Linked DNA regions of Homo sapiens. The protein of the gene in region 3 purifies or fractionates together with the protein of the main gene of each other region. This does not show direct contact. Each region holds a gene or a part of one and is shown on either strand. Other genes may lie near its edges.

Evidence for each region. Proteins that work in one complex are often made in the same cells at the same time.
Region 1: the proteins of DCAF4 (region 3) and NEIL2 purify together in Homo sapiens (affinity purification with mass spectrometry; one large-scale study listed by BioGRID and IntAct). This does not show direct contact.
Region 2: the proteins of DCAF4 (region 3) and NR2F6 purify together in Homo sapiens (affinity purification with mass spectrometry; one large-scale study listed by BioGRID and IntAct). This does not show direct contact.
Region 4: the proteins of DCAF4 (region 3) and LONP1 purify together in Homo sapiens (affinity purification with mass spectrometry; 2 studies listed by BioGRID and IntAct, with this or other methods). This does not show direct contact.

Annotation. Positions count from the first base shown.
Region 1 is NC_000008.11:11,772,710-11,776,209, forward strand, and holds part of NEIL2 (endonuclease 8-like 2), read left to right. Parts: intron 1-3,500. UniProt on the Homo sapiens protein: Involved in base excision repair of DNA damaged by oxidation or by mutagenic agents. Has DNA glycosylase activity towards 5-hydroxyuracil and other oxidized derivatives of cytosine with a preference for mismatched double-stranded DNA (DNA bubbles).
Region 2 is NC_000019.10:17,233,652-17,235,919, forward strand, and holds part of NR2F6 (nuclear receptor subfamily 2 group F member 6), read right to left. Parts: coding exon 1,848-2,268; intron 1-1,847. UniProt on the Homo sapiens protein: Transcription factor predominantly involved in transcriptional repression.
Region 3 is NC_000014.9:72,929,464-72,932,963, reverse strand, and holds part of DCAF4 (DDB1- and CUL4-associated factor 4), read right to left. Parts: intron 3,400-3,500; exon of another isoform or gene 3,208-3,399; coding exon of another isoform or gene 3,144-3,207; exon of another isoform or gene 3,000-3,143; intron 1-2,999. UniProt on the Homo sapiens protein: May function as a substrate receptor for CUL4-DDB1 E3 ubiquitin-protein ligase complex.
Region 4 is NC_000019.10:5,699,647-5,703,146, forward strand, and holds part of LONP1 (lon protease homolog, mitochondrial isoform 1 precursor), read right to left. Parts: intron 1,282-3,500; coding exon 1,143-1,281; intron 1-1,142. UniProt on the Homo sapiens protein: ATP-dependent serine protease that mediates the selective degradation of misfolded, unassembled or oxidatively damaged polypeptides as well as certain short-lived regulatory proteins in the mitochondrial matrix.

The DNA of each region.
Region 1 (3,500 bases), on a different chromosome or scaffold from region 3:
CGGGTGGTGCCTGTGGATGAGCTCACGCGCTCTGCTGCTGCTTAGCCGTGTGCTCTTAAGCATGTTCATCTCATAGCTCTTTCTTCTATTGTAGAATGGAGATAAGCCATTGACCTCTTAAAGTTGTTGTTTTAAGTAGAGTTTATGCCTGGCACATAACGGGTACTCCATAAGTACTAGTTCCCTTTCTTCCATCTTGCCCTCACCCCCCACCCCCGCAACACACACACACAGAGGTTTTAAAACCGTTGTTAGTTAGAACTGGAAGAGATCCTGTAGCCCTGTACCCATAGTTGATTCCTTTGGAGACTGAGGCTCGGAGAAGGGAGTACTTAGCCCAAGCTCAGGTGGCTGGCAAGGAACAGGTGAGAGCACGGGGTCCCATGGCCTCCAGGACTGTGGCCTCTTTGTACACACTGTCCTTCGAGGTTTGCAGGGGCAGAATTGTCTCTTGTCTCTGGATCCCCAGCACTTACCAGGGTGTCTGCCACAGAGCTGGCTGTAAGAGAATATTTCCCAAGTGGATGGGTGGGCAGATGGATGTGCGGTGAAGGAACCCGTAGACGGGACTGGGAGCTGCTTTCCCAGTAAACCAAGCAGAAAACCATGTTGCAGGGAACCTAAGGTTGCAGGGAACCTTCGGGGCTGCCTGGCAGTGCTTTGAAGTGAGCGCCCTTCCCTGCTTCTCCCTGTCGGCGGGTCCCTGACCCTAGGAACTTAGAACTGAATTGAGAACATACGGCTTGTATCGACACAGGCCACACTATTAAGCTATGCTAAATGGGGAGGGCAGAGCACATCATAAAGGCCCAGGTAATGACCCTGACAGGAAGAGGTCCCGGTGGCCTGGAGAAGATGTGCAGGAGGTAGGACTTGAGTTGGGCCTTGAAGGCTGGAGGATTTCAGTGGACTGAAGAGGGAGGAAAGGGCATTTCAGGCTTGAGAAGCAGTTACAGGCGGGCCGATGGAGGTGGAGTGAGCAGGGTGAGTTGATGAGGCAGGAGGGAGCTTGGCTGCACTCTGTGCCATCTGTTTGTCTGGCACATCCTTTTCTTGTCAGCTCTCCATTTTCTATATAGGAGTTGTGTTGGATTACTCATAACAGACTCAGAAAAATGGCTACTCTAGCTCATGGTTTTCTCCTCCTCCAGTAATGGAACAGTCCAGGGTGGTATAGGAGCAACATTGGAAACCAAGCTCCTTCTACTCTCCCCTTCCAAGACTGGGTAATTTATGAAGGAAAGAGGTTTAATGGACTCACAGTTCTGCATGGCTGGGGAGGCCTCGCAATTATGGCAGTAGGCGAAGGGGAAACAAAGGCACATCCTACATGGTGGAAGGCAAGAGAGCTTGTGCAGGGGAATTACCATTTATAAAACCGTCAGGCCAGGTGCAGTGGCTCATGCCTGTAATCCCAGCACTTTGGGAGGCAGAGGTGGGCAGGTCGCCTGAGGTCAGGAGTTTGAGACCAGCCTGGCCAACATGTTAAACCCCATCTCTACTAAAGATGCACAAATTAGCTGGGCATGGTGGTGGGCGCCTGTAATCCCAGCTACTTGGGAGGCTGAGGCAGGAGAATTGCTTGAACCCAGGAGACAGAGGTTGCAGTGAGCTGAGATCGCACCTGCGCTCCAGCCTCAGCAACAGAGTGAGACTCCATCTGAAAAACAACAACAACAAAAAACCCATCAGATCTCTTGAGACTTATTTACTATCACGAGAACAGCCCCCATGATTCAATTACCTCCCACTGGGTACCTCCCACCAGGTCCGTCCCATAACACATGGGAATCATGGGAGTTATATTATTCCACCCCCAGGCCCTTCCAAAGCACAAGTCCTCACATTTCAAAACCAATCATGCCTTCCCAACAGTCCCCAAAAGTCTTAATTCATTTCAGCATTAATTTAATAGGCCACAGTCCAAAGTCTCATCTGAGACAAGGCAGGTTGCTTCCACCTATGAGCCTGTAAAATCAAAAGCAAGTTAGTTACTTCCTAGATACAATGGGGGTACAGGCATTGGGTAAATACACCTGTTTCAAATGGGAGAAATTGGCCAAAACGAAGGGGCTACAGGCCCCATGCAAGTCTGAAATCCAGTGAGGCAGTCAAATCTTAAAGCTCCAAAATGATCTTTGACTCCATGTCTCTCATCCAGGGCACGCTGATGCAAGAGGTAGACTCCCACGGCCTTGGGCAGCTCTGCCTCTGTGGCTTTGGTAGGGTACAGTCCGTCATCCTGGCTGCTTTCACAGGCTGGCATTGAGTGTCTGTGTGTTTTCCAGGGCAGGGTGCAAGCTGTCAGTAGATCTACCATTCTGGGGTCTGGAGGACAGTGGCCCTCTTCTCACAGCTCTACTAGGCAGTGCCCCAGTGGGAACTCTGCCTTGGGGCTCTAACCCCGTCTTTTCCTTCTGCACTGCCCTAGCAGAGGTTCTCAATGAGGGCTCTGCCCCTGCAGCACACCTCTGCCTGGACATCCCGTTGTTTCTATACATCCTCAGAAATCTAGGTGGAGGTTTCCAAACCTCCATTCTTAACTTCTGTGCACCTGCAGGCTCAACACCACATGTGAACCGCCAAGGCTTGGGGCTTGTACCCTCTGAAGCAGCAGCCTGGGTTGTACATTGGCGCTTTTTAGCCATGGCTGGAGGGGCTAGGACACAGGGCACCAAGTCCCTAGGCTGCACACAGCAGAGGGGGCCCTGGATCTGGCCCAGGAAACCATTTTTTCCTTCTAGGTGTCTGGACCTGTGATGGGAGGGGCTGCTGTGAAGGTCTCTGACATGCTCTGGAGACATTTTCCTTATTGGCTTGGTGGTTAGCATTTGACTCCTAGTTACTTATGCAAATTTCTGCAGCCAGCTTGAATTTCTCCCCAGAAAATGGGTTTTTCTTTTCTACTGCATCATCAGGCTGCAAATTTTTCAAACTTCTGTGCTCTGCTTCCTCTTGAATGCTTTGCCACTTAGAAATTTCTTTCACCAGATGCCATAATCATGTCTCTCAAGTTCAAATTTCCATAGATCTCTAGGGCAGGGGCAAAATGCCACCAGTCTCTTAGCACAGCAAGAATCACCTTTACTCTAGTTCCCAGCAAGTTCCTCATCTCCATCTGAGACCACTTCAGCCTGTACCTTATTGTCCATATCACTATCAGCATTTTGATCAAAGCCATTCAACAAGTATCTAGGAAGTTCCAAACTTTCCCACATTTTCCTGTCTTCTTCTGAGCCCTCCAGACTGTTTCAACCTCTGCCTGTTACCCAGTTCCAAAGTTGCTTCCGCATTTTTAGATGTCTTTACAGCAATGCCCCCCTCCCAATACCAGTTTACAGTATTAGTCTGTTCTCATGCTGCTGATAAAGACATAACCAAGACTTGGTAATTTATAAAGGGAAGAGGTTTAGTGGACTCACAATTCCACATGTCTGGGGAGTCCTCATAATCATGGTGGAAGGCAAAGGAGAAGCAAAGGCATGTCTTACATGGCAGCA
Region 2 (2,268 bases), on a different chromosome or scaffold from region 3:
ACGCCTAGCTAATTTTTGTATTTTTAGTAGAGACGGGTTTTGCTGTGTTGGCCAGGCTGGTCTTGAACTCCTGACCTCAAGCAATCTCCCCACCTCGGCCTCCCAAAGTGCTGGGATTACAGGGCCACCAGCCAGGCCAAGGAGATGGGTTCTAAGGAAGCTCGCAGGGAAGGTGGGGCTGGGAAGGGAATTTGATGAGGAAGACAGAGCCCAGAAGGGCCTACGGTGTGAGAGAATGTGGCAGCCTCTAGAGAGAGACCCAAGATAGGAAGCCAAGAAGAAATCTGGGAAGGCCAGGCGCGGTGGCTCACGCCTGTAATCCCAGCACTTTGGGAGGCTGAGGCGGGCAGATCATGAGGTCAGGAGTTCGAGATCAGCCTGACCAACATGATGAAACCCCGTCTCTACTAAAAACACAAAAATTAGCCAGGCGTGGTGACGCGTGCCTGTAATCCCAGCTACTCAGGAGGCTGAGGCAGGAGAATAGCTTGAACCAGGGAGGCGGAGGTTGCAGTGAGCCGAGATCGTGCTACTGCACTCCAGCCTGGGCGACGGAGTAAGACTCCGTCTCAAAAAAAAAAAAAAAAAATCTTCTGGGAAAACAATAAATAAAGCCATATTTATTGATTTTTGAGACGCGGTCTCACTCTGTTGCGCAGGCTCAAGTGCAGTGGGAAAATCAGAGCTCACTGGAGCCTCGAACTCCTGGGCTCAAGTGGTTCTCCCAACTCTGCTTCCTAAAGTGCGGTGATTACAGGCCTGAGCCACCTTGCAGGCCCAAAACCATATTTATCAAATGAAAGCCACCTCCCAGAGTAGCCTGGATCTGGTTCCTAGCCCCAAAGATACCTCTGATGGGATCTAGAGACTTCCAGTAGGTTAAAGAACTCCCAGGAGACAGGCTGGAGAGATCTTTGTCTAAAGGCATGGTGGCTTATGCCTGTAATCCTAGCACTTTGGGTGGCTGAGGCAGGACTGGTTGCGCCCAGAAGCTCAAGACCAGCCTAGGCAACACGGTGAGACCACGTCTCTACAGAAAACGTTTAAAAAAAAATTAGCCGGGAATGGTGGTGCACGCCTGTGGTCCCAGCTACTCAAGAGGCTGAAGTGTGAGGGAGGATTGCTTGAGCCCTGGAGATCAAGGCTGCAGTGAACCGTGTTCGGACAACTGCACTCCAGCCTGGGTGACAGGGTGAGACCCAGTCTCAAAAAATGGAAATACAAATAAAAAAATAAAGTGGAAAAAAAAAATTTGGCTGTACCGCCAGTCGCTGGAATACGATGGGCTACCACTGCTAGATAGCTGATGGTTAAGAAAGTTCTGGGGTTGCCCCGCCCCTCAACGGGAGGGGCCTCCGAGCCACGCCCCTACCCAGATCCCTACAACCCTGGCTACCTGGAGGTTGCCCTGGGAGCCCAGTGGGGGCCTGAGGGGGCCAGAACCAGGGGGTCAGGACCTTCCCTCCCACGTCCCCCCAACCTTGTGCTATCAGTGCTCACTAAGCCTGAAGAGCCCTTTGGTGAGGGAGTAGGGGTCTCAGGGAGCCTGGGAACAGGAAGAGGGTTCTGGGGTCTGGGCCCTGGTCCTGGCCCAGCCTTGGGTCTGGGGTCCGGGGTTCAGAGTTCTCCGAGAGTCCTGGGATCACGGAGTGGGGGTGTCACAGTGTCACACTGCTTACATCACCCCTCTACAGCCACCCAAGAGCGTTCACTCACGGCGCGTGCAGGGCCCCAGGCCTAGGGAGCGAGCGGGGCGCTATGGGGGCCGGAGTCTGGGTCCAGGCCGCCCTCCTCCTAACCTCCCTTGGGTCCCCCCATCCCGCGGCCCTCTTCGGAGCGTGGCTCACCGGGCGTGAAGAGCGCGATGGCCTTGAGGCAGCCATACTCGGCCGAGTCGACCTGCAGGCGGCCCAGCTTGTCCACCTGCTCCTGGAAGGCGCGCACCTGGTCCATGAAAGCCACGGCGCGCTCGGCGGCCATAGGCGCGGCGTGGAGGCCGGCGGCGGCCAGTAGCGGCGCCGTGTGCAGGGGCAGCGCCGCCTGCGCCGCGTTCAGCACGAAGAGCTCGCTCCAGCTCAGGCGCAGCAGCGCCACCTGGTCGGCCACCGGCAGCTCGGGGAAGAAGGGCGCGTGGCGCGCCCACTCCACGGTGCTGAAGAGCAGCCGCGCCGCCAGCTCGCACACGTTGTCGATGCCCAGCACCGCGCCCGCCGCGCCGCCCCCTGCGCCGAAGCGTCCGGCCGCCGCAGGGTAGGGCTCAGCGCGCAG
Region 3 (3,500 bases):
AGTTCAAGACCAGCCTGCGCAACATAGCAAGATCCCGTCTCAAACAAACAACATTAAAAAAAAGAAAGAAAGAAAGAAAGAAAAAAAAATTATTCAGCTGGGTGTGATGGCTCACACTTGCAGTTCCAACTGCTTGGGAGGCTGAGGTGGGAGGATGGCTTGAGTCCAGAGTTTGAGACCAGTGTGGGCAACATAGCAAGACTCCATCTCAAAAACAACAACAAAAGAGTTACCTGGCCCAAAACAGTGCTAAAGCTGAGAAAACCTGTTCTATGTAGGAAGCACTCGAAAACAATTTGCTGGTAACATGCTGCATCTAGCACCTTTGGAGCTGCTCTAGATGTTAAAATCAGGTGTGTTGCAGAAGGTTGGGCTTGCCTTTGTCTTTCAGAGAAACTTTTAAGTACCTCAAGGCATTAAGAATTATAATTTCTAAGAGACTACTATTCTGCAAAGGCAATGTTAATCACAAATAAACACAATTTGGTTTTTTGGAAAATGACTGGAAAATATTTATCAAGTAACTTACAAATGTACATGCCTTCCTTCTGGGAACTGCTCCTACAAAAATGATTCCAAGATATTTACTACATTTTTCCGAATCATTTTATAAGGCCAGTATTACCTTGTTACCAAAATCAGACAAAGATATAGGAAGAAAAATATAGGTCAAGGCCGGGTGCAGTGGCTCACGCCTGTAAGCCCAGCACTTTGGGAGGCCAAGGCAGGCAGATCGCCTGAGGTCAGGAGTTCAAGACCAGCCTGGCCAACATAGAGTGAAACCTCATCTCTACCAAAATACAAAAAATTAGTTAGGCGTGGTGGTGCACACCTGTAGTCTCAGCTACTTGGGAAGCTGAGGCAGGAGAATCGCTTGAACCTGGGAGGCAGAGGTTGCAGTGAGCCGAGATCATGCCACTGCACTCCCGCCTGGGCAACAGAGCAAGACTCCATCTCTCAAAAAAAAAAAAAAAAGAAGGAAAAATATAGGTCAGTATGGGTTATGAATACAGAGACACAAAAATCCTTAACAAAATGCTAGCAAGCAAAATCCAGGAGCATATAAAAAGAATTATATACCAAGACCAAGCGCGATTTATCTCAGAAATATAAGGTTGGTTCAACATATGAAAATCAATCAATATACCATACTAATAGATGGGGAAAACCTCACATGATTTTCTCAATTGATACACAGAAAAAGCACTGGACAAAATGCAACATCCTCTCATGATTAAAAAAACATTCAACATACTAGAAACAGAAGGTAGTTTCCTCAACCTGATAAGGAGCATCTACAAAATACCCACACCTAACATCATACTTAGTGGCCAAAGACAAAGTTTTCCCTCTATGGTCAGGAATAAGACAAAGATGTTGGTTCTCAATACATCTGTTCAACATTGTAGTGGAAGTTTTAGACAGGCAATTAGGCAAGACAAAGAAAAGGCAACCAAACATGATCTTATATACAGAAAATCCTAAAGAATCCACCAAAAATCTACTGGACCTCACAAATGAATTCAGCAAGGTTGCAGGATACAAGATCAATATAGAAAAACCAGTTGTATTTCTATACACTGGTTCAGGCAATGAACAGCCTGAATATGAAAGAAAAGTTACATTTACAATGGCATCAAAAAGAATAAAGCACTCCTCTGGTCCTGCTCAGGCTCAGTTACAAAAAAAAAAAAAAAAAAGAGAAAAAGTACTTAGGAATATATTTAACAAAATTAATATATGGCGTGTACACAGAAAACTATAAAACACTGTTGAAAGAAATTACAGATTGAATGCAATCCCTATCAAAATTCCAAATGCCATTTTTTTAGCAATGGAAAAGCAGATCCTAAATTCATATTATGCAAGGGACCCAGAATACCCAAAATCATCTTGAAAAAGAACAAAGTTGGGATGACTCGCACCTCGCAATTTCAAAATTCATTACACAGCTACAGTAATCAAGACACTGTGTTACTGGCATATGGATAGAAATATAGATCAATGGAGTAGCATTGAGACCAGAAATAAACCCATATGCCTATCTATGGTCAACTGGTTTTCATCTAGGTGCCAAGACCATTCAATGAAAGAAAGAAGTGTCTTTTCAACTGCTGGGACATTTGAATATCAAACTGCAAAAGAATGAATTTGGATCCTTACTTCATACCATATGGGACAAAAATGAACCAAAATGGATCTCGATCTAAAACTATAAAACTCTTTGAAGGAAACAAAGGTATAAATCATCATGATCTTGATTAGGCAATGATTTCTCAAATATGACACCCAAAACTCACACACACTACATATATATATATACACACACACATACACACATAAATTGGGCTTCATCAAAATTGAAAACTTCCGTGCATCGAAAGACATTATTTAGGGCCGGACACAGTGGCTCACGCCTGTAATCCCAGCACTTTGGGAGGCTGGGACTGGCGGATCACTTGAGGACAGCAGTTCAAGCCCAGCCTGATAAACATGGCGAAGCCCCGTCTCTACTAAAAATACAAAAATCAGCTCGGTGTGGTGGCGGGCGCCTGTGGTCCCAGCTATTTGGGAGGCTGAGCCAGAACAATCGCTTGAACCCGGGAGGTGGAGGCTGCAGTGAGCCGAGATGGTGCCACTGCATTGCAGCCTGGGCGACAAGAGCGAAACTCCGTCTCAAAAACAAACAAAAAAAACTCCGTCTCAAAAAAAAAAAAGAAAAAGCTACACAAATAGCCAACTGGCACATGAAAAGATACCCAACATCATTAGTCCTTAGGTAGATGCAAATCAAAACCACAGTGAGATACCACTTTATTTATTTAATTTTATTTACTTATTCCCTCCTACCCCCCTTTTGGCTGAAGTGCAGTGGCGCGATCTCCGCTCCCGGCAACCTCCATCTCCCCGGCTCAAGCCGTCCTCCTGCCTCAACCTCGGAGTAGCCGGAATTACAGGCACGAGCCACAACACCAGGCTAATTTAAAAAATATTTTTGGCCTTCCGCCACGGCCGCCATGGAGAGCAGCAGCCATGGCTCTGCGCTACCTTATGGCCGTGGGCCTCAACAAGGGCCACAAGGTGACCAAGAACGTGAGCAAGCCCAGGCACAGCCGCCGCCGCGGGCGTCTGAGCAAACGCACCAAGTTTGTAGCGGGACATGATCCGGGAGGTGTGTGGCTTCGCTTCGTACGAGCTGCGCGCCATGGAGTCACTGAAGGTCTTCAAGGAGAAATGGGCCCTCAAGTTCATCAAGAAAAGGGTGGGGACGCACATCCGTGCCAAGAGGAAGCGGGAGGAGCTGAGCAAGGTACTGGCTGCCATGAGGAAAGCCGCTGCCAAGAAAGACTGAGCCCCCTCCCCTGCCCTCTTCCTGAAATAAAGAACAGCTTGACGGAAAAATAAAATAAAAATAAAAAATATTTTTGTAGAGACGGGGTCTCGCTTTGTTGCCGCCCAGGCTGGTCTCGAATTTCTGGCCTCCAGCGATCCTCCTGCCT
Region 4 (3,500 bases), on a different chromosome or scaffold from region 3:
TCCTGGGTTCAAGCAATTCTCCTGCCTCAGCCTCCTGAGTAGCTGGGATTACAGGTGTGAGTCACCATGCCTGGCTACTTTTTTTGTATTTTTAGTAGAGGCGAGGTTTCACCATGTTGGTCAGGCTGGTCTCGAACTCCTGACCTTGTGATCCACCCGCCTCGGCCTCCCCAAGTGCTGGGATTACAGGTGTGAGCCACCATGCCCAGGCTCTGACTCCTGTTTTTTAACCTTTGACTCCCACCTGCCTGCCTGGTTTCCAATGTCTCAGGAGTGATATTTTAAAAATTAATTTAAAATTAATTAATTTTCAGACAAGGTCTCGCTCTGTCACCCAGGCTGGAGTGTAGTGGTGCATCACAGCTCACTGCAGCCTCCACCTCCCGGGCTCAAGCAGTCCTCCCACCTCAGCCTCCCAAGTAGCTGGGACTGCAGACACGCAACATCACACCAGGCTAATTAAAAAAAATTTTTTTTCCTTTTTGAGACGGAGTTTCACTCTTGTTGCCCAGGCTGGAGTGCAATGGCACGATCTGGGCTCACTGCAACCTCTGGCTCCTGGGTTCAAGCGATTCTCCTGCCTCAGCCTCCCAAGTAGCTGGGATTACAGGCATGCGCCACCACGCCTAACTAATTTTGTATTTTTAGTATAGATGGGGTTTCTCCATGTTGGTCAGGCTGGTCTTCAACTCCCGACCTCAGGTGATCTGCATGCCTCAGCCTCCCAAAGTGCTGGGATTACAGGCATGAGCCACAGCGCCCAGCCGCAATTTTAAAATTTTTTGTAGAGATGGGGGTCTCACTCTGTCACCCAACCTGATGTGCAGTGGCATGATCACAGCTCACCACAGCCTCAACTTCCTGGGCTCAAGTGATCCTCCCGCCTCAGCCTCCTGAGTAACTGGGACTACAAGCAGCCCCACCATGCCCGGCCCGTCAGGCATGACTTCAGTCCACCTGGGAAATCCTCGAGCCCTCGGGGGCAGGGCAGGATGCTACCTCCGCCGGGATCCCCCCGACCAGCACCCCCAGGCCTACGAATTCACCAGGGGGCTCCTTTGAAATCTCAACCCACAGCACACAAGAGTCCTGGGCCCGGGCACCCACATGCAAATCCACAACAGGCCAGACACTGGGCTCACCAGGATGCGTTTCTTGACGTCCTCCATGCCGTAGTGGTCTTCCTCCAGCACTGCCTGTGCCCGCGCCAGGTCCAGGTTCTCGTTGCTGTACTTGCCCCAAGGGATGGACGTGAGCCAGTCTAGGTAGTTGCGGGTGACACTGCCAGGGGACAGATGGAGAGATGCTGAGTGGAGCTCACGAGCTGCCTGTCTCTCTGCTGGACTTGGCTGGGTGGTTGCAAGGGGCTTGAAACCCATGTGTGGGGCTGAGCGCGGTGGCTCACGCCTGTAATCCCAGCTCTTTGGGAGGCCCAGGTGGGAGGATCACTTGAGCCCAGGAGTTCAAGACCAGCCTGAGCAACTCAGCAAGACCCCATCTCTATAAAACAATTTACAGGCCAGGCACAGTGGCTCACGCCTGTAATCCCAGAATTTTGGGAGGCCGAGGCAGGCGGATCACAAGGTCAGGAGATCGAGACCATCCTGGCTAGCACGGTGAAACCCTGTCTCTACTAAAAATACAAAAAATGCTTCTGCCTCTGCCTCTGCCCTCTGCCTCTCCCCTTTCCACGGTCTCCCCTTTCCCTCTTTCCATGGTCTCCCTCTGATGCCGAGCCGAGGCTGGACTGTGTGCTGCCATCTTGGCTCACTGCAACCTCCCTGCCTGGTTCTCCTGCCTGAGCCTGCCGAGTGCCTGCGATTGCAGGCGCGCGCCGCCACGCCTGACTGGTTTTCCTATTTTTTTGGTGGAGACGGGGTTTCACTGTGTTGGCCGGGCTGGTCTCCAGGTCCTAACCGCGAGTGGTCCGCCGGCCTCGGCCTCCCGAGGTGCCGGGATTGCAGACGGAGTCTCGTTCACTCAGTGCTCAATGGTGCCCAGGCTGGAGTGCAGTGGCGTGATCTCGGCTCGCTACAACCTCCACCTCCCAGCCGCCTGCCTTAGCCTCCCAAAGTGCCGAGATTGCAGCCTCTGCCCGGCCGCCACCCTGTCTGGGAAGTGAGGAGCGTCTCTGCCTGGCCGCCCATCGTCTGGGATGTGAGGAGCCCCTCTGCCTGGCTGCCCAGTCTGGAAGGTGAGGAGCGTCTCTGCCCGGCCGCCCATCATCTGAGATGTGGGGAGCGCCTCTGCCCCGCCGCCCTGTCTGGGATATGAGGAGCGCCTCTGCCCGGCCGCGACCCCGTCTGGGAGGGGAAGAGCGTCTCTGCCCGGCAGCCCTGAGAAGTGAGGAGACCCTCTGCCTGGCAACCGACCCGTCTGAGAAGTGAGGAGCGTCTCCGCCCAGCAGCCACCCCGTCCGGGAGGGAGGTGGGGGGGTCAGCCCCCCACCCGGCCAGCCGCCCCGTCCGGGAGGTGAGGGGCGCCTCTGCCCGGCCGCCCCTACTGGGAAGTGAGGAGCCCCTCTGCCCGGCCAGCCGCCCCCTCCGGGAGGGAGGAGTGGGGGTCAGCCCCCCGCCCGGCTAGCCGCCCCGTCTGGGAGGGAGGTTGGGGGGGGGGTCAGCCCCCCACCAGGCCAGCTGCCCCATCCGGGAGGGAGGTGGAGGCGTCAGCCCCCCGCCCAGCCAGCCGCCCCGTCCGGGAGGGAGGTGGGGGGGTCAGCCCCCCGCCCGGCCAGCCGCCCCGTCCGGGAGGTGAGGGGCGCCTCTGCCCGGCCGCCCCTACTGGGAAGTGAGGAGCCCCTCTGCCTGGCCAGCCGCCCCCTCTGGGAGGGAGGAGTGGGGGTCAGCCCCCCGCCCGGCCAGCCGCCCCATCTGGGAGGTGTACCCAACAGCTCATTGAGAACGGGCCATGATGACAATGGCAGTTTTGTGGAATAGAAAAGGGGGAAAGGATTGAGAAATCGGATGGTTGCCGTGTCTGTGTAGAAAGAAGTAGACATGAGAGACTTTTCATTTTGTTCTGTACTAAGAAAAATTCTTCTGCCTTGGGATCCTGTTGATCGGTGACCTTACCCCCAACCCTGTGCTCTCTGAAACATGTGCTGTGTCCACTCAGGGTTAAATGGATTAAGGGCGGTGCAAGATGTGCTTTGTTAAACAGATGCTTGAAGGCAGCATGCTGGTTAAGAGTCATCACCACTCCCTAATCTCAAGTACCCAGGGACACAAACACTGCGGAAGGCCGCAGGGTCCTCTGCCTAGGAAAACCAGAGACCCTTGTTCACTTGTTTATCTGCTGACCCTCCCTCCACTATTGTCCTATGACCCTGCCAAATCCCCCTCTGCGAGAAACACCCAAGAATGATCAATAAAAAAAAAAAAAAAAATTAGCTGGGCGTGGCAGCGGACACCTGTAGTTCCAGCTACTCGGGAGGCTGAGGCAGGAGAATGGCATGAACCCGAGAGGCGGAGCTTGCAGTGAGCCGAGATCGTGCCACTGCA